4 linked regions of the Homo sapiens genome follow. The protein of the gene in region 1 purifies or fractionates together with the protein of each later gene. This does not show direct contact. Each region holds a gene or a part of one and is shown in the gene's direction. Other genes may lie near its edges. The genes, in order: TSPAN17, GPR89A, TM2D3 and VMA12.

What was found.
Region 2: the proteins of TSPAN17 (region 1) and GPR89A purify together in Homo sapiens (affinity purification with mass spectrometry, with the first as the bait; 3 studies listed by BioGRID). This does not show direct contact.
Region 3: the proteins of TSPAN17 (region 1) and TM2D3 purify together in Homo sapiens (affinity purification with mass spectrometry; 3 studies listed by BioGRID and IntAct, with this or other methods). This does not show direct contact.
Region 4: the proteins of TSPAN17 (region 1) and VMA12 purify together in Homo sapiens (affinity purification with mass spectrometry; 3 studies listed by BioGRID and IntAct, with this or other methods). This does not show direct contact.

The regions. Positions count from the first base shown.
Region 1 is NC_000005.10:176,643,064-176,650,493, forward strand, and holds the start of TSPAN17 (tetraspanin-17), read left to right. Parts: upstream 1-4,420; 5' UTR 4,421-4,552; coding exon 4,553-4,639; intron 4,640-7,430. Other genes in the region: EIF4E1B (eukaryotic translation initiation factor 4E type 1B), read left to right, coding at 19-203, 576-671, 1,313-1,376, 2,067-2,180, 2,314-2,453, 2,803-2,917. UniProt on the Homo sapiens protein: Part of TspanC8 subgroup, composed of 6 members that interact with the transmembrane metalloprotease ADAM10.
Region 2 is NC_000001.11:145,603,371-145,610,998, forward strand, and holds the start of GPR89A (Golgi pH regulator A), read left to right. Parts: upstream 1-4,617; 5' UTR 4,618-4,763; coding exon 4,764-4,805; intron 4,806-5,247; exon of another isoform or gene 5,248-5,305; intron 5,306-7,628. UniProt on the Homo sapiens protein: Voltage-gated channel that enables the transfer of anions such as iodide, chloride, bromide and fluoride which may function in counter-ion conductance and participates in Golgi acidification.
Region 3 is NC_000015.10:101,642,358-101,649,390, reverse strand, and holds part of TM2D3 (TM2 domain-containing protein 3 isoform a precursor), read left to right. Parts: intron 1-2,491; coding exon 2,492-2,666; intron 2,667-4,228; coding exon 4,229-4,304; intron 4,305-6,746; coding exon 6,747-6,912; 3' UTR 6,913-7,033. UniProt on the Homo sapiens protein: Probable positive regulator of Notch signaling.
Region 4 is NC_000017.11:28,360,614-28,364,183, forward strand, and holds the end of VMA12 (vacuolar ATPase assembly protein VMA12), read left to right. Parts: intron 1-40; exon of another isoform or gene 41-121; coding exon 122-234; intron 235-543; coding exon 544-639; 3' UTR 640-3,070; downstream 3,071-3,570. UniProt on the Homo sapiens protein: Accessory component of the proton-transporting vacuolar (V)-ATPase protein pump involved in intracellular iron homeostasis.

The DNA.
Region 1 (7,430 bases):
CTCCTTTTTTTGGCTCAGGTGAGTGAAGCTGAGGGTGGAATCCGAGAGTGGGAGGAGGAGGAGAAGGAGGAGGAGGCAGCAGAGAGGACGCCCACAGGAGAAAAGTCTCCAAACTCTCCCAGGACTTTGCTGTCTCTGAGAGGGAAGGCCCGGACGGGGGGCCCCATGGAAGTCAAGCTGGAGCTGCACCCCTTGCAGAACAGGTAGGCAGGAGCCTGCGAGTGGAACACAGCCCCTTGCTTTCAGGCCAGCCTCTGTGCTGGCAGCGTGGCCTTGGGCAACCCCGCCTCTCTTGGCCCTAGCTCTTCATCCGTGGGAGGCCAGGGCTGACCTAAGCCTTGGGCCCTGTTGGCCCTTCCAGCCCTAACCCCGCAGAGACTGTGGGTCAAACACCCCCACTCCTCCCCTGCCCTTCAGGACAACTGATTTCATTCACCTGAGAGGGGAATGCTGTGCCCCAAATCTCATCTCCCAGTTCGCCCTTGAAGGGGAGGGTCCTCCCTGTCAGTCCAGGTGCCCCGGGGGTGGACTTGGCTCTCTGCTTCCTCCTGGCTGCCTCCCCCTTCCCCTACCAGGTGGGCTCTGTGGTTCTTCAAGAATGACCGCAGCCGGGCCTGGCAGGACAACCTGCACCTGGTCACCAAGGTGGACACTGTGGAGGACTTCTGGGCGTGAGTGTCTGTCCCCAGTGGGGCTAGAGTTGGGGGGCTCTGAGCTCTGGGCTCCCTCTCTCCGGGTTGAGCCAGCCCTCCCTAGGGCCTTTCAGCCTTTGTGAGGGCTGGGGCTTTGTGGGTTCTGCCCAGGGGGTATAGGGCACAACCACCCCCCACCCCACCACCTTCTTTGGGCTCAGGGAGAGAGCCTGGGGAGCAGGAGAAGCAGGAAGCTGACCTTGACTCGGCCACTCCAGGGCTTTGTGACCTGGGCAAGTTCCTTCCCCTCTCTGAACCTGTCTCAGCTGCAAAGGGAGGACTCGGCTGCCTCAGTGTCCGGGTGCTCACGGGAGTGGCTCTGAAAAGGGCTACACAAGCCCTAGGGAGGGTGAGAAGGCCTCGGCTGTAGCTGGAGGGGGGAGCACCAGGGGGTCTAAAACCCTCCCCAGGGGTTGGCTCAGCCTTCACTGGGAAGGCTCTGTGGAAAAGGTGGGTCTTGAGAGTTTGGATAAACGGGAGTGGAATCCCAGGTGGCAGGCCAGTGTAAGCAAAGGCTTGGAGGCCATGGGGTCGGATGAGGAGTTGGGAGGGCTGAACCCAGTTGGAACCAGGCCCTAAAAAGCCTTGACTTTTGGCATGGGGTCGGGGGCTCTGTCCAGGCTATACAGTCACATCCAGCTGGCCAGCAAGCTCTCCTCTGGCTGTGACTACGCCCTCTTCAAGGTAAGCTCTGCTCTCCTCTTTCCCTCCCGCAAAGGGACAAGGGGTTGATCCCTCCCGGACTCCACTGCGTTAATCCCTCAGAGGGGTGGGGGTGGGGAGCTACGGGCCACCTCTCAGCAGAGTTGTGGTTTCTGACTGGAGGAAATGCTCTACAGGAGCCCGGACAGAGTAGGTCAGGCCCAAGCCGCACCTTGGAGGACCTTAAGAGGCGGGAAGAGGGAGAGGGAGAGATTTCTGACCTGGCTCCTTAACTAGGGAAGGGCATCAGAATTGCTTGAGGACACTCATTGATGCCACACCCATCCCTGGAGGGCTGACATTGTGTTTAGAGATCTCCCCAGTGACTTCTGCCCTGCCTGGGAACCATGCAGCCAAGCCTGGGATGTCCCCCTTGCCTGCATTGGGGTCTGCCCCTGAGGCTTCCTTAATCCACCCCGATTTGAATGCTTGTCTTAAGGAACTCAGTAAAAGAGACATGCACATATACAAGGCTATACAAGGTGACCAGTGCTGTCTGTCGGGGGGAGCTGAGTGGCTGGGGGTGGAACCTGCTTGCACTGAGGGAAGGGAGGATAAGAGAATCTGGCCTACTTAGGGCCTCAGCAGAGAGCGGATAAGGCCGGGATGGTGGGTGGGTCCCCATTTCCCTTTGAACACAGGGAGGCAGTTGACTTGCCATCTGCCTTGCAGGATGGCATCCAGCCCATGTGGGAGGACAGCAGGAATAAACGGGGTGGCCGCTGGCTGGTCAGCCTGGCCAAGCAGCAGCGCCACATTGAGCTGGACCGGCTGTGGCTGGAGACGGTGAGTTGGAGGAGGAGGGTCCTCAGGGGAAGAGACGGGCTGTGTGGGTCTCATGGTGGCAGTGGTCTCAAGGATGGCAGGCCAGTCCCTATGTCCCAGCCGGTGATCTCACAACCCCCTACTTCGGGTCCAGCTGCTGTGTCTGATCGGGGAGAGCTTTGAGGAACACAGCAGAGAGGTATGTGGGGCCGTCGTCAACATCCGCACCAAGGGGGACAAGATCGCTGTGTGGACGAGGGAGGCGGAAAACCAGGCGGGCGTGCTGCACGTTGGGTGAGGAGGGTCTCTGGCACAGGGTGGGGACTTGGGTCTCTGCTAGAGGGAAGGTGGGTGGAGGGGGCTTGGCCTGCATGGGAGACCTCTGAAAGTCTCCATAGCCTCCCTCCCTTCTGCCTTGCCCACCTGTATGGAAGGTCTGGCGTTCAGATTTCTAACTTTCTCTTACGGCAGTGCAGCTCTCCTTTTGCATTAAGGGGGTCATATTTTGGGTTTCCACATGGGTAAGACACAACAGGTGTGGCTGTGGCCAGAATGAGGGTAGGAGTCTGGTGGCCTAAGTTATCTCTAGGACCCTCTGATGACTACCTGTGTCTCTTTTCCTCTGTGTCCCCCGCACCTGCAGGCGTGTATACAAAGAGCGCCTGGGCCTCTCCCCAAAGACCATCATTGGGTACCAGGCCCATGCAGACACAGCCACCAAGAGCAACTCCCTAGCCAAGAACAAGTTTGTGGTGTGAGGGGGGCCTTGGCACCCCTCCTATGTAATGGGACAGCCGCCACTGAGCCTCATTACTTTGGGGGATGGGGCGGGACTGGGGATCAGACAGCCTAGTTCTTACCTGTCCTCAAGTGAACAGGAATGCAAACACTCTTTAACATGAGTTGGGGCCTGAGCCTTAGGGGCTAGATGGGGGTAGTGGTGGCAGTCTGAGGACCTAGCTTGTCCTGGGGCCACAGGACAGCAGCAGGGTGGAAAAAACTCCTGAGGGTGGGGTGAGTCATGGCGGGGAAGGAGGGCTCTATGGTAGGCGGAGAAACCCATAGTCCAGCGTTTACTGTTTCCACCCAGGAAGGAGGTGAGGTGGCCTGAGAGACAGACTCTTCCATGGGTGGTGGGCTCAAGGGCACAGACATTCTGGAGGGTGAACGCCATCATTTGTACAGAGGGATACGTGGGTTGCTGAGGACTGAGAGAGCCTTGCAAGGCCGCTCCCCTTCTCCCCAGCTGTGACCAGGGCTGTCTGGGCCTTGCCTGCCTCAGGGCCAGACTGAAGTGGAGGTGGAGGGATGCTGGGCTAGGCCTCACCAAGGTTCTGGTAGAAGTGGTGGAAGTGGATAAACTTGATAATAAAAGCTTAAGCATCTTTCTGTTCCTGTTTTAAATAAATACTTCTGAACAAAGTTGGAATTATTTTTAAGAGGGCTTCAAACTGGAGTAAGATTCAGGTTCCCCCAAACTTTGATCTGCCTCTGTCCTGTCTTACAGGGGCTCATGTGAGATCACTGGGTACCAAGGAGCCTGACCGGGACCCTGGCCAGTATGGAGGACAGGGGGTGTGGCTGGGGAAACTCAGCCACCAAGGGGGCTTGAGCCAGGTTCCGGGGGGCATATGCCCCTGGCAGGGCGCAGCCGGCGTGGCACCAAGGCCCAGGCCCTCGTTTGGCCTGAGTTTGAGTCAGGATAAGTAGAGCTGGATTTCCGCTGGGTGAAGGTGAGCCTGATGCGACTCCACAATGACAAAACGTCCTGCACGTGTTAAAAACTCAATCCGGACCAGCTTCCCCATTCGCCTGCCAGAGCAGCAGTTAACCTTCCCCTGGGATGGGCTCCAACAGCAGGCTGGGGATTGGGATGGCGCTGGTACCCAGCAGGGGAAGCAAGGCTTCTACACCCCGGCGGCCTCCGGCGCCATCAGCCGGCGTCCCGGGCGGGTCTGCAGGACGCTGGGAAACGCGGCGGCGGCCTGCGCGGGGGCGGGGCCTGGCCGAAGGCGGGGCTGCGAGGAGGTCCGAATCAGGCTGTGGGGGCGGAGCTCGGGAAGCGGAGCCAGGTCCAGAGGCGGGGCTCAGGCGGGACTGAGTTGATCTATGGGGGCGGAGCCAGGTCAGGAGGCGGGACTCCAAAGGGACTGAGGGCTGTGGGGGCGGGGCCCGGTCCAGAGGCGGGGACAGCAGGGCTCCGGGCAAGGAGGTCTGGATGCTGAGGGCGGTCCCTGAGGGGCGGGCGGGGCCCGACCGGCGCTCTGTGTGGCCGAGGCCATGAAGCCGCAGCCGCCCGGCTAGGCCCCGGGCGGCTCTAGCCCAGGGCGGCCCGCGGGGCGCTGGGCCTGGCTCCCGGCTCCGGTTTCCGGGCCGGCGGGTGGCCGCTCACCATGCCCGGCAAGCACCAGCATTTCCAGGAACCTGAGGTCGGCTGCTGCGGGAAATACTTCCTGTTTGGCTTCAACATTGTCTTCTGGGTGAGCGCGGGGTCTGCGCCTTGCCCTGTGCTGGGGGGTGGTGGGAGAGGGAGATTCAGTCTTTTGCTGGGGGAGACCACTCCCTGCCCCAAGAGTTTGGAGCTCGGGACCATCCCCCCACTTCTGCCACACCCACGCCCACTTCCAGGACCACCCGAGGTAGCTACAGAGGCCCGGATTGCTGGGGGCGGGTCCTAGCGACAGCGTGGGGTCGGGGTTGGGGTAGGGAGTCTCCCTAAATAATCCCGAGGCCTGGTGGAGAAAGGGAAGGTGTTTCCTTGAAGACCCCAGGGGCGTGCTAGGTGCAGGTTGCCCCCTCTCGCCCAGCCCTCCTTCCTACCCTGGGATGTGGGATGCGTGCCAAGCCCCACCCCTGGTTTAGCCGGTAAGGAGATTCTGGCGTGAAGGGAGCCGCCAGGCCCCTTCCCCGGCCTCCTTTCCCTTCCAGTAGTACCTGGGTCAGGTGCCTCACCTTAGGCTCCTGCAGAGTGGGGTGGGTCACAGTCCTCTGCCCACCCCAGTCCCGCACAAGGAGGCTGACCTGCCAGGAGGGGCAGGGAGGGACAATGGCGAGTCCTTGGCGGCTGGGAGAGGATCTCCCCGGTTGAGAGCCTGGGAGCTGGCCTTGGGGAACAGAATTCAACATTCCACAGCTGACAAGCTGAGGCTCCTGGGCGGGTCTGCCCCTACCGGGGAAGGGAGCTACTAGTGCCCCTCCCAGGGTGGCATCTGTCCCCCTGGGCCCTGCCAGGTCATTTTTCCCATCTCTCCAAAGCCGTGGCCCTCTGCAGTCTCTGCTCCTGAGGCCTTGGGTCAAGATGCCAGGCCTTTTCCCTTGTGTTCAGCAAGACTCAGTGGCACTGCCCCCCACCCACGTGTCACCGAGCTCACTGGTGTGGTGGGTGTCCTTGCACTGCAGCGCTAGGCTCTTGAGGGTGTGGGCAGTGTGTGGGAGCACTGGCAAAGAAGTCAGAAGGCCTGGCTGTAGCAGGCCTGGCTGGGACACCTTGGGCAAGTCATCTCTCCTCTCCGGGCCTCAGCTTGCCTGCCTGGGAGACGACGATAAAGAATCTGCCTGTGAGGGCTGTTAGGCAGATACAATGAGTTCAATTTGTTGTATTCTCACAACTGCCTTATTATCTGCATTTTACAGATGGGGAAACTGAAGGAATAGACACAGAGAAATTAAGTCACTTACCTAGGGTCACACAGCCAGAAAGTACAGAGCCAAGGTGACGGCTTAGTGGGCAGAGGGTGGAGGTGAGGCAGAGCTGTGAGCAGAAGTAACCTCAAATACCGAGGGGGAGCAGGCGTGAGAGACCCGGGTTTGTTGCTGGGGCGGAGCGTGGGGTGTTATGTTAAGGTGGCATGGAGAAGCGAGGGCTTCCAGTGATGGGTCTGATCTGGCTTCTGTTCTGGAGACCGCTTGCCTGGCTGCTGTGTGGAGGGTGGATGAGGGGCAGGGCCTGGAGGTTTGGAATGGGGGCAGGGCTGGGGCAAAGCTGGGATGGTGAGGTGGGAAAGGTGAGGGAGGTTGCTGGGAAAGTCAAGAGGCTGAATTGACTGGGCTGGGTCACTTGGGGGCTGGAGGGAGGATTTCAGATTTGGGTTAAGGTGGCCTAAGGGAGGCTGCTTGTGGAACAGGCACAGAGGTTTTCATGTTTAATGTCAGGCAGACCCTGGTGTTGTTCTGTTTGGAAACTGCTTGTGGTTTCCTTTTTTCTTTTTTCTTTTTTTTTTTTGAGACAGAGTTTTGCTCTTGTTGCCCAGGCTGGAGTGCAATGGCACGATCTCGGTTCACTGCAACCTCCGTCTCCCAGGTTCAAGCGATTCTCCTGCCTCAGCCTCCCAAGTAGCTGGGACTATAGGTGTGTGCCACCACGCCTGGCTAATTTTGTATTTTTACTAGAGATGGGGTTTCTTCATGTTGGTCAGGCTGGTCTCGAACTCCTGACCTCAGGTGATCCACCTGCCTTGGCCTCCCAAAGTGCTGGGATTACAGGCGTGAGCCACCACGCCCGGCCATCCTGCTCGTGGTTTCTTACTGCTCCTAGAGTACTGTCGGCCTCCAGGGCCCCGCGGGGCCGGGCTGTCCGCCCTTCAGTTTGTTCCTTGAACTAGACGTGGTCTTGTGTCAGGGCCTCTGCCTGTGCCCTACCCTCCTCCTGGAACAGGCTTTTCCCTCTTGCTCTTTTCATCATTCAAACCTCAGCTGAAATGCCCCCACCCTCCCTTCTGCCCTCTCTAAAGCTGGCGTCCAACCCCAGCATCCCCCATCTCGTCGCCCCGCTCGATATTTGTTAAGGGGTCTGTTTGCATCTGAGGTTTCCTTGTCTGCTCACTGACTGTCCATCTCCCCTGCTGGAGTGTAAGCTCCGTGAGGGTCGAGTCCGTCCTATTCACCAGCGAATCCCCGGCATGGCGGCGATCAGTGCCGGTGGGTCGTGGAGGTGTTTGCTGCAGGCGGGTGGACGTAGGGGTGTGGGACCAGCATGAGGTCTGGGTGGGGATCGGGAGATGCCAGCGTCATGATGGGATGGAAGACGAGCGTGAGGAGGAAGAACGGCAGAAGGCTGAGGCTGGAGGCCGTGGGACCAGCCACAGGTGGTCCCTCCAGGAACACAGCCCTCCAGGAACTCCTGCTGGAGGCTGAGAGCTCACTTCCCAGCTGTTTTCCCAAAGTGCTTTAATTGTATTTCCTTGGCTCTGATTGGCTGCCTCTGGACCAATCCCCGGGGCAGGTGAAGGCGGAGCATCCTGGGAAGGAGCTCGGGGAGGAATGGGGTTGAGT
Region 2 (7,628 bases), on another chromosome or scaffold:
TATGCATCACGTTAACCAAGAATAAGAATGAATATCCCAGACTTTGGAAATATGCCAGTGTTGTACTCCTTTGCAACTGTCTTAACATTACGGTGGCAAATCTCAATCCAGTGGTAAAGATGGGGACTTCTTTAAAATAAGCAAATGTCCCTGCTGGTAGTTATCCCAAGAAGAGGTCAGTCCTGGAGCAAGAAGTGGTGGGGCAGTAGGGAGAGCTTTCTGCTCTGCCTGAGCACAGACGGCAGGGGACCAGAAGTTTGGAACAGTTCATACAATAAGAATATGAACATCCTTTACTTTGAACTTCAACTAATATATTCCATTTTAAATTTAATCTCTACATATTCTTCCCCTTTGTTCACAAAATATATGGATCAAATTCATTCTGCATGATAATTATATCAACAGAGAATCCCAAAATTAGTTTTAATAAATGGAAAAAGTTGGTGTTATATATTTCAAATAATGCCACTGAATCTTTCCAAATTTGAGAGCTCTACGATCATCAGTCTTTTCAGTATAATTTGAATAATTGACAACCAAAACTTTTAAATATACATTTATAAATATTAATAAATAAATATACATTGAAACTAATGATGAAGGAAAACTGAATGTAAACTCATAATAATAATAATAATGGGTAAAAATTGTTGCATACTTACTATAAAGTGCTTATTTTCCTGAGGGCTTTATGTATATTACTTAATCTTCATAATAACCTTATGAGATAAGATACTATTACTATCTCTATTTTTTAGATGAGGAAACTGAAGTACAGAGAGTTTAGTAACTTGCATAAAACCACACAACTATTTAATCTTCTTTCCTCAGGAACACGACCTCAAGAACAACCAAGCACTTGATACAGAGCTGACTCTAACTCATATGAACCAGTCAAGGCCCTGGACAAGGCGGTGCATACCAAGTCAGCACCAAGGTCAATATATCCAAAATGAGATTGTATAAGAGGAAAGGACTGGAATGCACCTCCAAGAAGGTCTGGAAAAGTGAGAACCAACTAGGGAAGAGGTTCAAAGTAGACTCAAGGAAGATGAAGGGGAATTCTTGAGCCAAAGCGCAAGTGGTTGGAAAAGATCTTTAGGCTTCCTGAGGCTATAGAGTGAGCATATCTAGAGAAAGGGTGCGGGAGTGGAAAAAAGCAAAGAGCAAAGCTAGCACCACTCTGGCCCTCAGTCCCCTTTCTCTAGACAAATCGGAGCTGGCATTTTCCTAGTGTGAAGGTGCTAACTCACTCTAGGAAAGTTTTGAGATGGGGAGCAGAGTCTCACAACCAGTCCCCAGTCAGTATGCATAAGAATCTCCTGGGATGCCGTTACAAATGCAGATTCCTTCTTAAAAAAAAATTGAACTCACAAAAGCAGAGAGTAGAGTGGTGATTACCAGGGGCTGGTGGGGGATAGTCGGGTGGGGTTGGAGAGATGTTGGTCAAAGGATACAAAATTTCAGTTAGATAAGAGGAATAAGTTCAAGAGATCTATTGTACAATATGGTGACTGTAACTAATAAAAATGTATTGCATTTTTGAAAATCTCTGAGAGTAGATTTTAAGTATTCTCACCACAAAAATAAATATCTGAAGTAATATATATGCTAATTACCTTGCTTTAGCCATTCCACAATGTATACATATTTCAAGATATCATTTTATGCATGATAAATATATATAATTTTTATTTATTAATTAATTGACTCCTAGATTCCTCCTGGGAGTCACTTTCAGAAATCCCAAGTCCACTGGTCTACATTAGGACTTATGAATCTACATTTTAAATAAGCTCCCCAAGTCATGAGAGAACCACACTTTGAGAAAACTGCACTTATATATTTTCTAGGTATCAAGTATAGATACTGTCCATGGGACCATTGGGAAATAAACACTTTTCCTCTGAATACTTGGGGTTTCCTGTCCAGCTTACACTGGTGACTTAGTGGGGCACACAGGGGAGTTCAGAGACTCAGTGAACCTGGCACAGTGGGCAAAACTACAAGATAGGTTGTCTATCCATGAAGGGAGACAGCGGGAGTAGGATGCCACGGAATTGGTGATACCATATGTCTCAAACGATCCCAGACTTACAACTGCATGTGAATCTACAACTATGTCATAATAAGTAAAAAGTTTCAAAAGAAAATCCCTAACAGAGATCATCCAGCCACTGGCATGGGCAGGTGCTATGTAAGTGCACGGAGAAGAAGTACTAGGGTGTTTCCCAGGGATCTAATGTTAGTGTCAACTCCTGGGCCCAGTCCTTTGCATTAATTTGGAGGAAGGGGATGAAGTAGTTAGCTGTCAGTATGTGGATGGTGCTGGGAAGTGTGAGAGTACCGTAGGTATGAACACTGCAGTTGCTATGAAAAAGGACAGTAAAGTGGTGTGAGCAAACACTCATCCAAAGGACACAGACTGATCATCTTGTCAGTTGACTCTTTGTAGCACATCTATGGGACTGGCTGTCAATCTCTGGATGAGTGGCAAACAATGGCTACTAGTTATGAACATGACATATTTTGAAAAGCTCCCTTGGAAAAAGCACAAACTGGGGACTCAGAGCCCAGATGGTGTGACTGTCCATGGAGGCAGAACCAAAAGATCCCACTATTCTAAGAGGATGGCAGCAGCTAGAGTGGATCGGGAGAATATTACCAGCAGTAGAGATGGGAGGACAAGCCATTTTAGTGTCAGAGTCCACCACCAGCAGTACAGACTTGCTTTGAAAGGAGAGTCAATTGGATACTAAATGCAGTGCGAAGGTTTCTAAAGACATTCCTCAATCAAAATCAGGGGATAAAGCAGTCGCTTGAATCACCTAGGCCTGTCCTTTACCTGGACACAAGTGGTACAGTAGGGAGCATTCTGAATAGTGTCACCCAAAGCTTTGCATAGGCCTTAGGCCAGCAGGTATTGCACACCTTTCTCTGCTATTCCTCGTTACTGATATTCTGATCCCCACTGTGCACCCCAGTAAGCCACCAAGGTAAACTGCTTGCCTTGATAGTCTCTTTCAGCACTCTGCACTCTACACACTCTTGAATGTCAGTTAGGTGCTGTTATGTGGGAATCTACCTGCTTACCTAATAGATATAGCCTGGACACAAAGTTCTCTGGTTTATGACACTCCCATTGTACAGCTGCCTCCATAGCTCCTTGAAATTCTGGATCAGGGATTGGACATCTGACAGGTAGTTTTGACTGCTTGGTATCACAGAGTTCAATCCAACAAAAGGAAGACATGTTCCCTTGTGTATAATGAATCTGCAGATCACTTATTCAAACTATAGTAGTCTGAACTCAGATGCTGGATGTCAGGTCCCCTCAGGATTGTCTTCCTGCGTCTTGACTGCAGCCACTCCTACACAGGGTGATTTCCTGGGCTGGAGCCAGTTTGCAGGACTATGAGACTATATAGACTACAAAGCCTAGCTAGGCCCCAGGTCGGCGGCAGAGTAAGCCCCACAGCAATGCGTTAAGCCTTCATGAAATGAGTGTTGAATGAATGAGGTAGTGATTCAGTGTATATTTGATCCACTGCAATAGGTGGGAAGGGGGCAGAGGCAGCTACTTCCTAAAATAACCCTTCTTCAGACTCTTAAAGAACTGATCCTTGTTTTGAATTAAAATCTATCTTCATTTAACTTCCAGTCCTTTGCCCTACAGATAATTCGTAGCGCCACATCAGTTCTACCCATTCTTTCACATGAAGACAGATGTCATGTTCTGAGTCATCTTTCTTCGCCTCCTTCCAGCAGCCCTTATCTGGTGGCTCACATTTGAGCGAGCTCCAATATGTCTCTGTAGAATCTCTCTCTTCTTTTTTCTTTTCTTTTTTTTTTTTTTTGAGATGGAGTTTCGCTCTTGTTGCCCAGGCTGGAGTGCAATGGCGCGATCTCGGCTCACCGCAACCTCCCCTCCCGGGTTCAAGCGATTCTCCTGCCTCAGCCTCCCTAGTAGTTGGGATTACAGGCATGCACCACCACGCCCGGCTAATTTTGTATTTTTAGTAGAGACAGGGTTTCTCCATGCTTGTCAGGCTGGTTTTGAACTTGCGACCTCAGGTGATCCGCCCGCCTTGGTCTCCCCAGGTGCTGGGATTACAGGCGTGAGCCGGCCCGGCCTGTAAAATCTCTTCAAAGTGTGGTACATGGAGTGCAGTACTCCACCTGTGGCCTGACTGATATGCAGTACAATATTATCACTAAATTGCTACAGACAGTGTGCTTTTCATTGTTGTCACAGAAATGTATTTGGTTAGTTATATTTGTTCATATCTCATCTGACTTTCCAGTCTTCCCTCACTTTGTACAGTCATATTTGCCGAGTCAAGTAAAAGTTATAACATTTAGGACACAATGCCCGACTTACTATAATTACCATTATTATCTTAGGATCATTACAAAACAGAATTACCACTTAGCTCTCAGGCCCTACCTCCTTCAGCCTCAGAAACGTTAACGCTACCTTGCATTGCTGCTTTTAGCACCGCCCCTAATAAGCCCCGCCCCTGGGGCCTCCGCGGCGGGAGCCTAGCGTCCGCCCCACCCACCCCGAGCCCGAGGCGGGGCTGTGGATGTAGACGCTGATTGGCTGACTGGGGCGCAGCTTGATGGCGTCGGGCTGGAGAGCCGCAGTCCCGGCTGCAGCACCTGGGAGAAGGCAGACCGTGTGAGGGGGCCTGTGGCCCCAGCGTGCTGTGGCCTCGGGGAGTGGGAAGTGGAGGCAGGAGCCTTCCTTACACTTCGCCATGAGTTTCCTCATCGACTCCAGCATCATGATTACCTCCCAGGTGAGTCACCGCCTCCCGCCCCGACACCCGTCCGCCTCCCTTTACCGAATCGCCCTCTCCGGTCCTCCGCGGTGCGGGCTGGTCCGGGGTCTCGCTCCTCTCTTACGCGTCCTGCGCTAGTCACTCTGGCACCCAGAGAGGGTGTGCGATTTGCTGCGGCCGGTTCCCTCAGCCCCGGCTGTCAGGAGACTGGCCTGCGGCCGTCCGCGTCCCCACCCGGCATCCATCCCCGGAATTTCGGTCCACTTTTGGAAGCGGTCCGCCGACCTCCAGGCTAAGAGCCGGCGCCGCCAGCTAAGGCGGCGGTTCTAGGAGCTCCTCGAAGCTTCCGGGCTGCGCCAACTGATCCTGGACTGGGGAAGCCTGTGTGGTTCTGGGCGCGCGGTGTGCGACGCGCCAATACTGGATACTGAGGACACGTCAGTGCAGGCTTTGCTGTTAGATGTCAAATCCTGAATCCGGGTGTGGAGAAATTTGCTGCTTCAAAGTATCAGTATAAGGTAATACCTGTGCTTGAAAGTATAAGGTTTCGTTTTTGCACTGACACCTCGTCCTTTATCCTCTGCTTAGTTACCCACCTTTTCCGGATGTTTTTCTGACCCTCATTTCTTCTCCATTGGCCACCTTCATTTGTTTGTACAGTCAACAAACATTTATCGACCATTATATAAAGCTCTGAGCGTAAAAACATGTAAGACACTGTCTCTGCTCAATAGAAGTTTCGTCTAGTTAGCCTCTTGCTTTTACCATGTAATCTATTGTTAATTATTGTTTCTTCCTAGCATTCATCATAGCACTGGCATCATTTATGTCTGTGTTTCTGATTTTGTTTTTTGAGATCCTGCCTTGTTCATAGCTGTATCCCCACTTCCAAGTGCAGGCATTCAATAAATAATTGTTGGCCAATATTTGTGAAGCTCAGACTGCCTGTTGACCTTCTTCCCCCCATCTTTCCAATAAAGATTTTGTGTGTGTGTGGTTGTTTTTACTTGTTCTTTCTCTCAAACGGCAAATAACAGAAGCAGTTACCTTTGGGGGCTTAAAGTGAACTAAATTTGTGTTCTTTGATTCCGTTTTTGTATTGCTTCATCCTAATACTCGTCTCCGTAGAGCGGAGCATTGTCCTTTTCTCTTCAAAAACTTGTTTACAATATTTAAGAAAATAAGAAAGAAGGAAAAGCCATCCATAATCCTACCACTCTAATGCAATAGTTTTTTCATTTTTAAAATTTACCACCTTTTCTATAGTTTTCATAAGTATTGTTTTTATTGGCTGCATAATATTCAAATGTATTAATGTAAAAAAACCTAGACATGTAACTCTTCTGCTTAAAACCTTTCTAAGACTACCCAGTGCCCTTGGTGACAACTCAGGGTTATTTTTAGCCTTAGTACCAATTTAAGAAAAATAACAATATTTAATTAGCTTTTCTTTTCATTTAGAATAAAGATAAGAATGTCAGTAGAAAATTGGCTTTGCATTGCAGCCTCTACGATTTTTAGCATGGATATAATTGATACGTTGAACCGAGGAAGTGGCTTTCTAATTTTGTATGCCTTATAATCATAGACTTTCACTTCACACATGCATCCACATGCAGTAATTAATTGTTAAACCTGGTTTTTACAAATGTGGAAGAAAGACCCAAAGATTCCTTTGCATGGAATGTTCTCTGTTCAGATATTTATGTGGCTACTTTATCATCCTTTCGGTATTAATAAAAATGTCGCTTTAGGAAGGTCTTACCTGACACCCTGCCCACAACCAAAGTAGCTTTCCATTTCGGCTGCCTTCTTCCTCATTTCCATGTTTTATTTTCTTCTTGGCATTTATTACTATGGTTCATTTGTATATTCATGTGTTTGTTATCTGTCCATGAGGTCCAAGATACTGTCTGTCTTGTTCTCTCCTGTATTCACCAGCATCTAGATCAGTTGCGGGCACATAGTAGAGTTGTAGTGAATATTTGTTTAATAAAAAGCACCTCTCTAGAGAGGTGTGGTTACCTTGGAAACACCACCATTGCCCCCTGCGCCCCTCCCTGCTCATTTTTTCTGTTTTGTATTAACTGAAAGGTTTATTTGAAATGAAATCTGAAATCAGAGGTCACGTATTCAATCTTGCTCACCACGGCACAGGATGAAGTTCAAACTCCTTTACATGGCTTTTCAGGTCCCTTATTGATGGGACCCTGGCTCTTCTCTCTTCAGCTGTGGCTCCAATTTATTCTTTAGACTTCCTGAACTTCTTTTAGTTCCCTAACCTGGCGATGCTATGGTGCCTCCAGATTTCCACACAGTGTGTTTTCTCTTTCTGGGCCTTTTCCTCATATCCCTCCCCTTCTTTAAGCCTTCAGATCTCAAGTTGAACATCCAAGAAGCTTCCCCTAGACTGGACTAGATGTCCCTATACCTACTGCCATAGTACCCTTCACCTACTTCCCCTGTAACAACACTACCACATTGTTTGGTAATTACTTGTTTATCTCCTCCATAGATTATAAACTCCTTGAGAGTAGCATTCATGCTCTCATTTGCCATTCTATCCCTTGGACCTGGCACATATTAGGCACTAATAAATATTTGTTAAATGATTAAAAGGGTGAATAAATGATCCAAGAAAGGTGTCTTTTATAGTTAATTCTTTAATAACTGTCCTGCTGATGGCCATCTTTTTTTTTTAACAGTAGCTAATTTTCAACCCAGAAGTCACTTTTTTAAAAGCAACTGTTAACTAACTCATGTTTTGAGCCCTCTATACCGTCATAAGACTTATCAGTTCCAGAGTACACTCTTAAGTCCTAAGGTCAAGACTCTGTACAA
Region 3 (7,033 bases), on another chromosome or scaffold:
GAAATAAAGTTTAGAAGCCATAAAATAAAGAATTGATACATTTGACTCCTAAAAATTGGAGATTTCTGCATGACCTAAAAAAAAAAGCATAAAGGCAAAAGACATGGCAAACTAGGAAAAAGCGTTTCTAGAATATGTGACAAATAATACAGTAATATCAGTAATATATAAACACTTCCTAAAACCCACACGGAAAAGATGACAGTCTTGTAGAAAAACAGTGTTAGGACATGAGCAGATGGTTCATAGGAAAGGAAATACAAATAGATATATAACATGAAAAACATATAAGTTTTCTCATAGTATTTAATTAATACATTTTTAACCCTTAGATTGGCAATTTTTTTTTAATTTGATTAACTCTGAGTTTGTGAGAGTATAAGGGTCAGATGCTCATATCTTATTAATAGGTAATCAAATTGATCAACCTCTTGTAGGCGATTTGCCATATCTGTTAAACTTACACATGCACACAATCGTTGAGCTCGTAGTTGTACATGTAGGAATTTATGTTATAGATATCATTATACATGGATGCAGATAAGTGTGCTTATTTTTTAGCTGCATTGCTCATTAAAGCAAAAGATTCAAAAGAAGTGAAATGTCTAAGAACTGCTTAATTTATGGTACACGTGTAATAGAATAAACACCTTGTAGCCATTAAAAAGAACTAGGCAGCTCTAGAGGTAATGTACTGATAGATGTCCAAAATTAAGTGAAAGTATTGGGGAACATTAAATGTAGGTGACATAAATGTGCCTATGTGTAGAATCAGCTCTCTCTGGAAGCACAGAGCGTACTTGGCCTGGGGAGGGCAGGGGCTCCCGGCGGCTGGGCCAGACGAGGCCGGCTCACTTCTCACTCTCCTGTTGTGTCTTGACATGTGTTCCATGTACATGTGTCACCTACTTTTTAAAAAACCATTAAAAAAAGTGTGTTTTAAGCACATCACTGAAAATAGGCAGATGTAAACGTATTATTTTGCAGATCCAACTGTTTGCCTAAATCAAGTGATGCCTTACCCATATTTGAATGTTTTCCATAAAAAGTGGTTTTTGCATTGATAAGAAAATGAATAGTACTTGCTTCATCAGCGCATATGCCAAAGTTGGAACCATACAGAGAGAATTAGGATGGCTCTTCTGCAAAAATGACATGCAAATTTGTGAAATGTTAAAAAAAATAACAAACATGGGCCGGGCGTGGTGGCCTACACCTGTAATCCCAGCACTTTGGCAGGCCGAGGCAGGTGAATCACCTGAGGTCAGAGGTTGAGACCAGCCTGGCCAACATGGTGAAACCCCATCTGTACTAAAAATACAAAAATTAGCTGGGCGTGGTGGGGTGCGTCTCTAATCCCAGCTACTCAGGAGGCTGAGGCAGGAGAATCGCTTGAACCTGGGAGGCGGAGGTTGAAGTGAGCCGAGATTGCACCACCGCATTCCAGCCTGGGCGACAGAGCGAGACTCCATCTCAAAAAAAGAAAAAAAAATAATGTGTGTATGTGTATATATATGTATACATATATATACATGATGCTTCCAGAGATGTGTGACCACATAAAAATGATTTTGAAAAATATGCACTGCAATGTAATGTCAGGTAGAGTAAAAAGACTACAAAGTGCTTTCAGTATAATTCCATTTTAGTAAATTTATAAATATACATGTAGAAGAAACGGAAAGAAGATTAAAAGTGGTTAGCTCTGAACACCTATAGGTTTTTGTCTATAATCTTCAAATATGTAACATACAAAGAACATTCTACTTTTGTAAGCAGAATACAAAATAATGGCTTTTAAAATTGAAATGAAAAATTCTCTGGCCACCAGTGAACACTCACTGAGCCTCCACACACCATGTGGTGCTTCTGAGTTGGGCTGCCTCTGGATTAAACATGCCACATGCCCTGGTGGTAGGAGCAGCTGTAACAACCCTGAGTTGCCAGGCTGTGCAAGGTAGGGGATGTTAGGGAAGGTTGGCAACTCGGAAGCAAGGCGGTGTGTTAACCATTACAGAAGCATCAGGCTGGAGTTCAGGGACCTGGATTCCACTCCTCACTTGAAGCTCAGTGACCTTCAACAAATGCATTCATCAGTTCCTTCCAGCCATCCGTGATTGTGACTTTCTAAAATAAATTTTCCTCTTTTCTGCATTATAAAAGTATACGTTTACTATGAAAAATTTAGCTAAGCAAAAGTTATGAAATAATTATATCACCCTGAAATAACCTTTGCTATTTTGATGTGAATTTATCTAGTTTTTTCCCTTAAGTACATATGTTTGGGTGTGTAGTTTTATGATTATGAGGTCACATCATAGGCATTTGTTTTACATACATATTGTTTTGGTAACTGTTTTTCTGGCACTTACTCCTAGGTCCTAAATACAAGCATTTACGGAATTTTGTGCCATGTGACTGTGTAGTCTTACTGACATCTTAACAGACTACACCATTGTGATTGATGAGTTTTGTGTCATTTGCTACATAGGATCAAGACTTCAAATCCCAAAAGAACTTCATCATTAACATGACTTGCAGATTTTGCTGGCAGCTTCCTGAAACAGATTACGAGTGTACCAACTCCACCAGCTGCATGACGGTGTCCTGTCCTCGGCAGCGCTACCCTGCCAACTGCACGGTGCGGGACCACGTCCACTGCTTGGGTAGGTCAGAGTTCAAGGACATTTGTCAACAAAATGTTTTTCTCCAAGTTTATTGAAGGGACTTTAACCAGAAATTTGCGAGTCAAGTTACTTAATTAGAAACATTTATCAGCAGCTCTTTAGATGTGCCAAGCATCATCAATAAACTCAACGTACTAAAGTAAAGCATCCAGAAAATTGCAGTTCTTTTTAAATGTAATATTTGATAAAATAAGAAAAACATTTGAAGTATAAAGCATAATACACAGTAATTGACCTTTACCCAAAATAACAATGAAAGCAGCACCAATACCATTGCGGCCGCCTGAGTGCCTGAGTGCTTGCCTTCACCTGGTTGCCTTTCCTCCTCTTCCAAGGTAACCACCCTTTTGAATTTTTTATTTCACTTCCTTTTAAATTTTTTCTGTAGTTTTATTGTCTATATGTAATAAAATAATATTCAATAATGCATGTTTTAGAACCGTGTAAAATGATTTCAGGCTGTGTGCTCTTCTGGGACTTGCTTATTTCCTAAACATTGTGGCTCTAGGATTCATCCACGTGACTTCTCTTCTTTTTTTTACTTCTGTGTAATAATCTATTGTAAGATTGTATCACAGTTTATTCTCCAATATATTTGGTTAAGTGCTGTTTTCCGCTGTTGTGACTGTTCAAATTTCTTTGCCTGTCTCCCAATGGCACAGGTGCAAGAGCTTCTTCAGCATGTACTTTCCAGCGTGTGTCATTCTTTAAATGGCTGTATTGACTGGCATTCCCACCCGCGCTATGTAACTGTTCCTGATGAGCCATATTCTCTCCAAGAGTGGTTATTCTTAAATTTGGTCTTAAAGTTGTCTAGACTTCTTTTATATTTTGGATATTACCTGTGCTGTCCCTGAAACCCTCTCCCAGATTTTGATTTTTTTTTTTTTTGCATTATTGTATATTTTCATGAACAGAACTTTAAAAATATAATTACTGGAAGTTATTAGAGTTAGTCCTTTTTTGTGGTGGTTTTAAGAAATCTTTTTCTACCCCAGGTTAATAAAGACAATTTGCTACATTTTCTTTTGAAAGTTGTAAGTATAACATTTCACATTTAGGTTTAGAATCCACCTGGAATTGGTCCTGGTAGATGGTGTGAGGTAGATTCTACTTTAATTGTCCCCCCACATGGATGGCCAGTTGTCTCAACTCTTCCCTGTTGATCCGTGTGTGACCTCTGTCATAACACTCATACATGAAGTGTTTGTATATTTCTGGTTCTTGACTTTCTCTTCTTTTCCTATTGGGTGATTTTTATGCCTCAAGACTACACTGTCTTATATACTCGTAACTTCCCCGTAGGTCTTGATATGTGGGTGAGCATTTCATGTTCCTCACGTTGTAATCCTAACTTAGCTGATTTAAATATTACATCTATGTAGATAGATGGTAAGCGCTTTGTACTCTTCACTTCAACATGTATTACCGTAAAGAGAGTTGACTTTTCACATTTTAAATTTTGAGCCCATTTGTTACAATTAAGTCTTTCTGAGAGTATTTTTTATACCCTGTATTTTTCTTTCTTTTTTTTTTTTAAGGTAACCGTACTTTTCCCAAAATGCTATATTGCAATTGGACTGGAGGCTATAAGTGGTCTACGGCTCTGGCTCTAAGGTAAGCCTTGTTACTCGTAAGTGTAAAAGGCCGTTTGCATTTCTTTGGGATTGGTGGAATCTTCAGACATTGAGCTCAGTCCCCTTCATTCTTCACTCAGATCCTACCACGTGTGTTAGACTCTAGCAAACAGCTGGAAGAGTTTAGATGATCAGACCAGTACCTCCGTGGAGTTGACTGGCAGGCATGTTAGCTTTTCTCCCAAGATGCCTGCACATTACGTTTACCATTCTGAATGTACCACGAATCAGTAAAATGCTGTGGACTATCCAAAATAGGCAGTTTTATGATGTATATCTTTAATTTTAAGTAACTATTATAAAAAGTAATACATGATGAACACTGAAAACTGGAAAAATGAAAATGACAAAAACATTAAAAATTACCTATAATTTCATCAGCAGCAGATAATTATAGGCTTATATTTCTTACATAGAAATGTGCTGTTTGTTAAACTTCTCAACAGTACTTTAAGAAATTATAGCAGTTCTTCCCACCAAAGGGAAGGGCAGGTAAGACCCTGGTTAACTGATTAGTGAAAAGGTTACGCTGCCTACACTTGAAGTTTTGAGTTCGTGCCTGAGACCCTGAGGCCTGCAGCATTGCAGCCATAGGGCAGGATTTCTCAGCCTCATCACTGCTGACGTTCTGGGCTGAATGAGTTTTTGTCTTGGGGCTGTGCTGTGCATAGCAGGGTGTTGAGCAGCATCACTGGCCTCTACCTACTACTTGTCAGTAGCAAACCCCCCATCCCTTGCAGCTGTGACAGTGTGTCTCCAGATGTTGCCAGGTGTCCCCTAGGGGACAAAATTGCCCCTTGCTGAGAACCACTGCATTAGAATTTGAGCTGAGGAAAGAAGGATCTTGCCTGGCAGGAAAAGTGTAACTGAAAAGTAAAAGAGGGTGCCAGGATAGAAAATGAGACTAACAAAAATAAGATAGGGCGGGCGCGATGGCTCACACCTGTAATCCCAGCGCTTTGGGAGGCCGAGGCTGGCGGATTGCTTGAGGTCAGGAGTTCAAGACCAGCCTGGCCAACATGGTGAAACCCCATCTCTACCAAAAATACAAAAGCCTGCCATCGTGGTTCATGTCTGTGGTTCCAGCTGCGTGGTAGGCTGCAATGGGAAGATCACTTGAGCCCAGGAGGAGGAGGCTGCAGTGAGCTGGCATTGCACCACTGCACTCCAGCCTCAGTGACAGAGTGAGATTCTGTCTCAAAAAAAAAGATTAGTAACCATTGCTGACAATGGTTCAAATTAACAACTGGCTTTTTAAAAAAATAAATAAATGTTTGAAACTTGGAATAATTTTAATTTACAGAAAAGTTGCAAAGATAGTAGAGTTCTTATATACCCCTAACCTGGTTTCCCTACATTGTTAACCTCTTACAGTACTATACTGTAACATACTTTCAACAATTAAAACTTCTCAGCACTCAACATGGTTTTTTTTTTTTTTTGCTTTTTTTTTTTTTTTTTTTTTTTAACGGAGTCTCTCTCTGTCACCCAGGCTGGAGTGCAGTGGCTCAATCTCGGCTTACTGCAAGCTCCACCTCCCAGGTTCACGCCATTCTCCTGCCTCAGCCTCCCGAGCAGCTGGGACTACAGGCGCCCGCCACCACGCCTGGCTAATTTTTTGTATTTTTAATAGAGACAGGGTTTCACCGTGTTAGCCAGGATGGTCTGGATCTCCTGACCTTGTGATCCGCCTGCCTCAGCCTCCCAGAGTGCTGGGATGACAGGCGTGAGCCACCGCGCCCGGCAACATGGTTTCTTTTAAAATCATCACTGTAATGAGATGATGCCCAAGGTTTGCTTCAGGGTACTCTGGAGGGGAAAGAGGAGGGTTTTGATGAAACACAGCTGGCCAAGTGTTGATTATTGGAGCTGAGTCATGGGTACTGTTCTCTTTACTTTTTATTGTTAGGTGTTTAGAAATTTTCCATAATATAGTTTCAGTATTATTAGATCTTAGAATTTAAAAGATCCTTAAATCTTTTAAGGATTTATTCCTAACATTAAGATTTTAGAGATGAATGAAAAAATAGACTGAAAACATGGATGACTTGATCCAGGTCGTCCAGGTGGTGGTGAGCTCCTCCTGACTCCAGCCCTGACCCCGTGTTAGTGCACTTCCTGTTAGACTGGGTCTTTGCTTTATTTTGACTAAAAAGCAATGAGATTGATAACTTTAAAAAAAGAAAACATTGGTTTTTTAGTACAGCTAAAAATTGTATGTTTACTTTTGACATTTAAACTGTCTTCCTGCCCGTAATTATTTGGTGGTGTCAGTTTGTGAAATAGTCACTTGTGTTCCAGTTAAGGGCTACGATCAGGGGAAGCCCTTTCTCAAATCTGACATAATGTGGTGATTAAACCGTGACTGGCCACAGCTGGGGTGGAGGTGGTCTCATGGAATCCTGTCTGTTTGCCATCGCAGCATCACCCTCGGTGGGTTTGGAGCAGACCGTTTCTACCTGGGCCAGTGGCGGGAAGGCCTCGGCAAGCTCTTCAGCTTCGGTGGCCTGGGAATATGGACGCTGATAGACGTCCTGCTCATTGGAGTTGGCTATGTTGGACCAGCAGATGGCTCTTTGTACATTTAGCTGTGGTGTGTGCTTCAGAAAGGAGCAGGGCTTAGAAAAAGCCCTTTTGTCCGTAGGAGTTGATGTGGTGTGAGTGATATATTTCTATGTTTTTAATGTACAGCATCTGTACTTTGTTTGC
Region 4 (3,570 bases), on another chromosome or scaffold:
ATGGGTCATGACACTCAGGCTTGTTGTTTGACTGAAACCCAGTTGGTGGGGGAGCCATGAGATAAGAGCACCTCCTAGAGAATGTTGAACTAAAGGTGCCCTCTCTGGCTCCTCCCCAAAGTGAGATCATTGAAGGCTCTGGTCATCACCATCTTCAATTTCATTGTCACGGTGGTTGCTGCCTTCGTCTGCACTTACCTTGGAAGCCAATATATCTTCACAGAAATGGCCTCGGTGAGTAGGCACTGGGCAGGGCAGGGTGCCCCTGGTGGGGGTGTTAGTGGGTAAGGGAGGACGTATGTGAAAGTGCCTTGCACAGGTTAGGTATTGAACAGATATTTATGCCATTAATAAGGGGAGCATTAGAGCTTTCCAGCAGTCACGGGAGGTTAGGTAATAACCCCAGGAGAAGCCACATTCTCTTTTCTTCCCCTCCCCCAACTTAGAGGGTGGTTGGGGGGCTCTCCATCCTCATTAAAGTTGCTGGGGTACAGAGCTGGTTGTTGGCCTGCATCCCTTAAGCCTGGTTCTCCCCATCTCCAGCGGGTGCTAGCTGCATTGATCGTCGCCTCTGTGGTGGGTCTGGCCGAGCTGTATGTCATGGTGCGGGCAATGGAAGGCGAGCTGGGAGAACTGTAACTGGTGCTTCATCATCAAGTCTAGAGAAGACTTTGGGGGCTTCAGGCTCCAATTGGCAGTCACCGACTCAGTCAACCCATCAGACTTTTTGTATTCAGCTCCAGTTAGTCAGAAGACCAGCCCAGGCCAGCTGCTGTTTCTGTGGGGAGCCCTAATCTTCTGTGAATTTCCAAAGGGAGCATTGGAGGAGATTGAGATAACACATCTTTAAAACAGAAAGAACTGGTCTTGGTCTATCAGTACCTCTTCCTGAATCTGGTACCCATCTGCCTTCTCCAGTTCATTCTAAACACTGCTGGGACTAGGGTTTTTCCATCAGGAGCAAATGGAATCCAGGCCTTCCCAGAAGTAGACCATACTGCCTTGAACTTGTCCATATGTACAAACTGATCACCAGCTTTCTCCATACATTTTTAATGCAGACCTGTAATTGAGTTCAGAAGCCTCCAAGAAAACAGAAAGGATCCCCTTTCTCCAGTTTGTGCTGGAAGAGGAGCTGATCAGAGACATCAAATAAGAGAAAGATGGGTTGCTAGAGGATGGTAGAACTGGAAGCAAGGCAGCTACCTTTTTGCAAAAGGAAATGGTGTTAGGCCCCTTTTCCAGAAGATAAGACAGACTCATAGAGATTAAATGATCACTATGGTCCTTCTTCTGTTAAATGGAGCCAAAGACGCCTATGTTGTTCTGAAGTCTTGTAATGTTTAACTTCTGAGAACTTAGATTAGTGGTGTGATGATAGAGTCTGTATAACGCATTGAAAAGGGTATCAGGCTTAGTTATTTATCCAATAAATATTTATTGTATGCAGGGTATTCCTATTTTAACTCCTGTGACAACACAAAGCATAGCGATTTCCATAGTTCTAACTGTTCAGGGTCTGCTCCTCCTGGTACACTCTTTTTGGTTCACTGTATGTACTCCTGTTGTCTTTTTTTTTTTTTCCAAAGCACTTTTCTGTTTTCATAAATTATATACTCATTCACTCAGTGGACACTTCCTCTACAATGTTTGCCAGTTTCTGTTAGTTGGGAGAAGTGTCAGCTGTGAAAAGAAAAAGTAGGTGGCATTTTACAGTGTTTCCAGTAACCTGAGCTATATAAAATTTGTGTTAAAAAGCTACACTGGGCCAGGTGAGGTGGCTCACACCTGTAATCGTAGCATTTTGGGAGGCTGAGGCAGGCGGATCACTTGAGGTTGGGAGTTTAAGACCAGCATGGCCAATATAGCGAAACCCCATCTTTACTAAAAATACAAAAAAATTAGCCAGGCGTGGTGGTACATGCCTGTAATCCCAGCACTTTGGGAGACCAAGGTGGGAGGATGCTTGAGTTCAGGAGTTTGAGACCAGCCTGGGCAACATGGCAAAAGCCCATCTCTACAAAAAAACGCAGAAATTAGCTGACATGGTAGCGCACGCCTGTAGTCCCAGCTACTCAGGAGGCTAAGGTGGGAGGATCACTTGAGCCTGGGAGGCAGAGGTTGCAGTAAGCTGAGTAAGCCAAGATCATGCTATTGCACTCTAGCCTGGATGACAGAGTGAGACCTTGTCTCAATGAAAAAGCAGGGGGCACTGGGAGGGGAGAACCAAATGCCCTATCCTCCAGTTCTCAGCATATAGAAGGGAGCTCTCTCATCTGCTAGCCACTCCTGCCTCACTGTGCCATGCTTTCTGTAATGCACTCTGGGTCCAGGGACTGCTTGGCAGGAGGTGGGAAGAACAAGAAGTTTAGGGCCTTCCCAGTTTCTTAGGGCCTGTCTGGAGAGGGAACTAGCGTTTACTGAGTTTTTACGATGTGTTACACACCATGTAAAGCCCTTTACCTACATTATTTCTTATACCCCAAACAGAGAGCAAATAAGTATCCCCATTTTTTAGTCACATAGAGTTCCAGAGTTGCCACAGTTACATCGCAAAGTCAGGATTTGAATCCAGTGCAGACCGCAAACACCATGGTTTTCTCTCCAAAGCAGAGCAGCTCCAGAGGTGGAGGTGACTGGAATGTCCTAGATTCAGTGGGACCAGGAGCTGGGGGTGCTAGCAGAGGCTCTCATCTCCCCAGGGTCTTGTCAGTCAGAGTCCTAAACCCTTCAATTAACTATCCCTCTAATCCCAGCTGAAGCCTGGGTAATACCTCCCACCAAGAGGTATCTGTGTGGAACCTGGCCCTATTTAGGGATTAGGTGATGGAGATAAATTTCCATGGCAAACGGCCCTCGTCCCCGTTCGTTTGCAGAGCACAACAATCCAGATTAAGGTACAGAGTTTGGGTTTTATTTGGAGATTAGTTGGTATTACAGGTGATGGTGATACCAAAACCCAATGCTGCTATACCTGCCTCCATCCCAGATCTGTCAGGTTGTCTCCACAGCCCCACATCAGAGGGCATCCAATCTGATCTTTGTGAAAATTAAATCAACATAAGCCCCAGCTTCCTATCTTTGCTTCATTACTTTAATGCCACTCCCTCTTCACATCCGTAGTTCTGATTAATTTGTCCAGGTGGTCGATGGTCAAGAGAGGGGGCCCTGACCCATAAAGAAGTTGGCTCTCCAGCAGTCTAGATGAGGAGCAGCACTCTCCTCTCCTACCTCACTTAGCAGTTAGCAAGGTAATGGCCTGGAGAGACCTCAGGAGACAGGAGCCTGCCCCTTCAGAAGGAGGAGGCCATCAGCTGGTGAGAACTGGGGACCAGGCCTGGCAAGAGTGGAGGAAAACATGACCCTCATCTCATCCTTCTGAAGGTACCACCTGCCACAACAATGAGCATATGCCCCAAAGGGGTCAGGGTGTGGGGTGGCAGGAGCCAGGCCCCAGTCTGCTTAGGACCTGCATCTAGGCTGGCCTGGAGGCCAGTGGAAGGGAGGGATGCCTGAGCTAAACTCCTTTCCCGTAGGGAATCCCTTTGCATAAAAAGTGGGGCCAGGGAA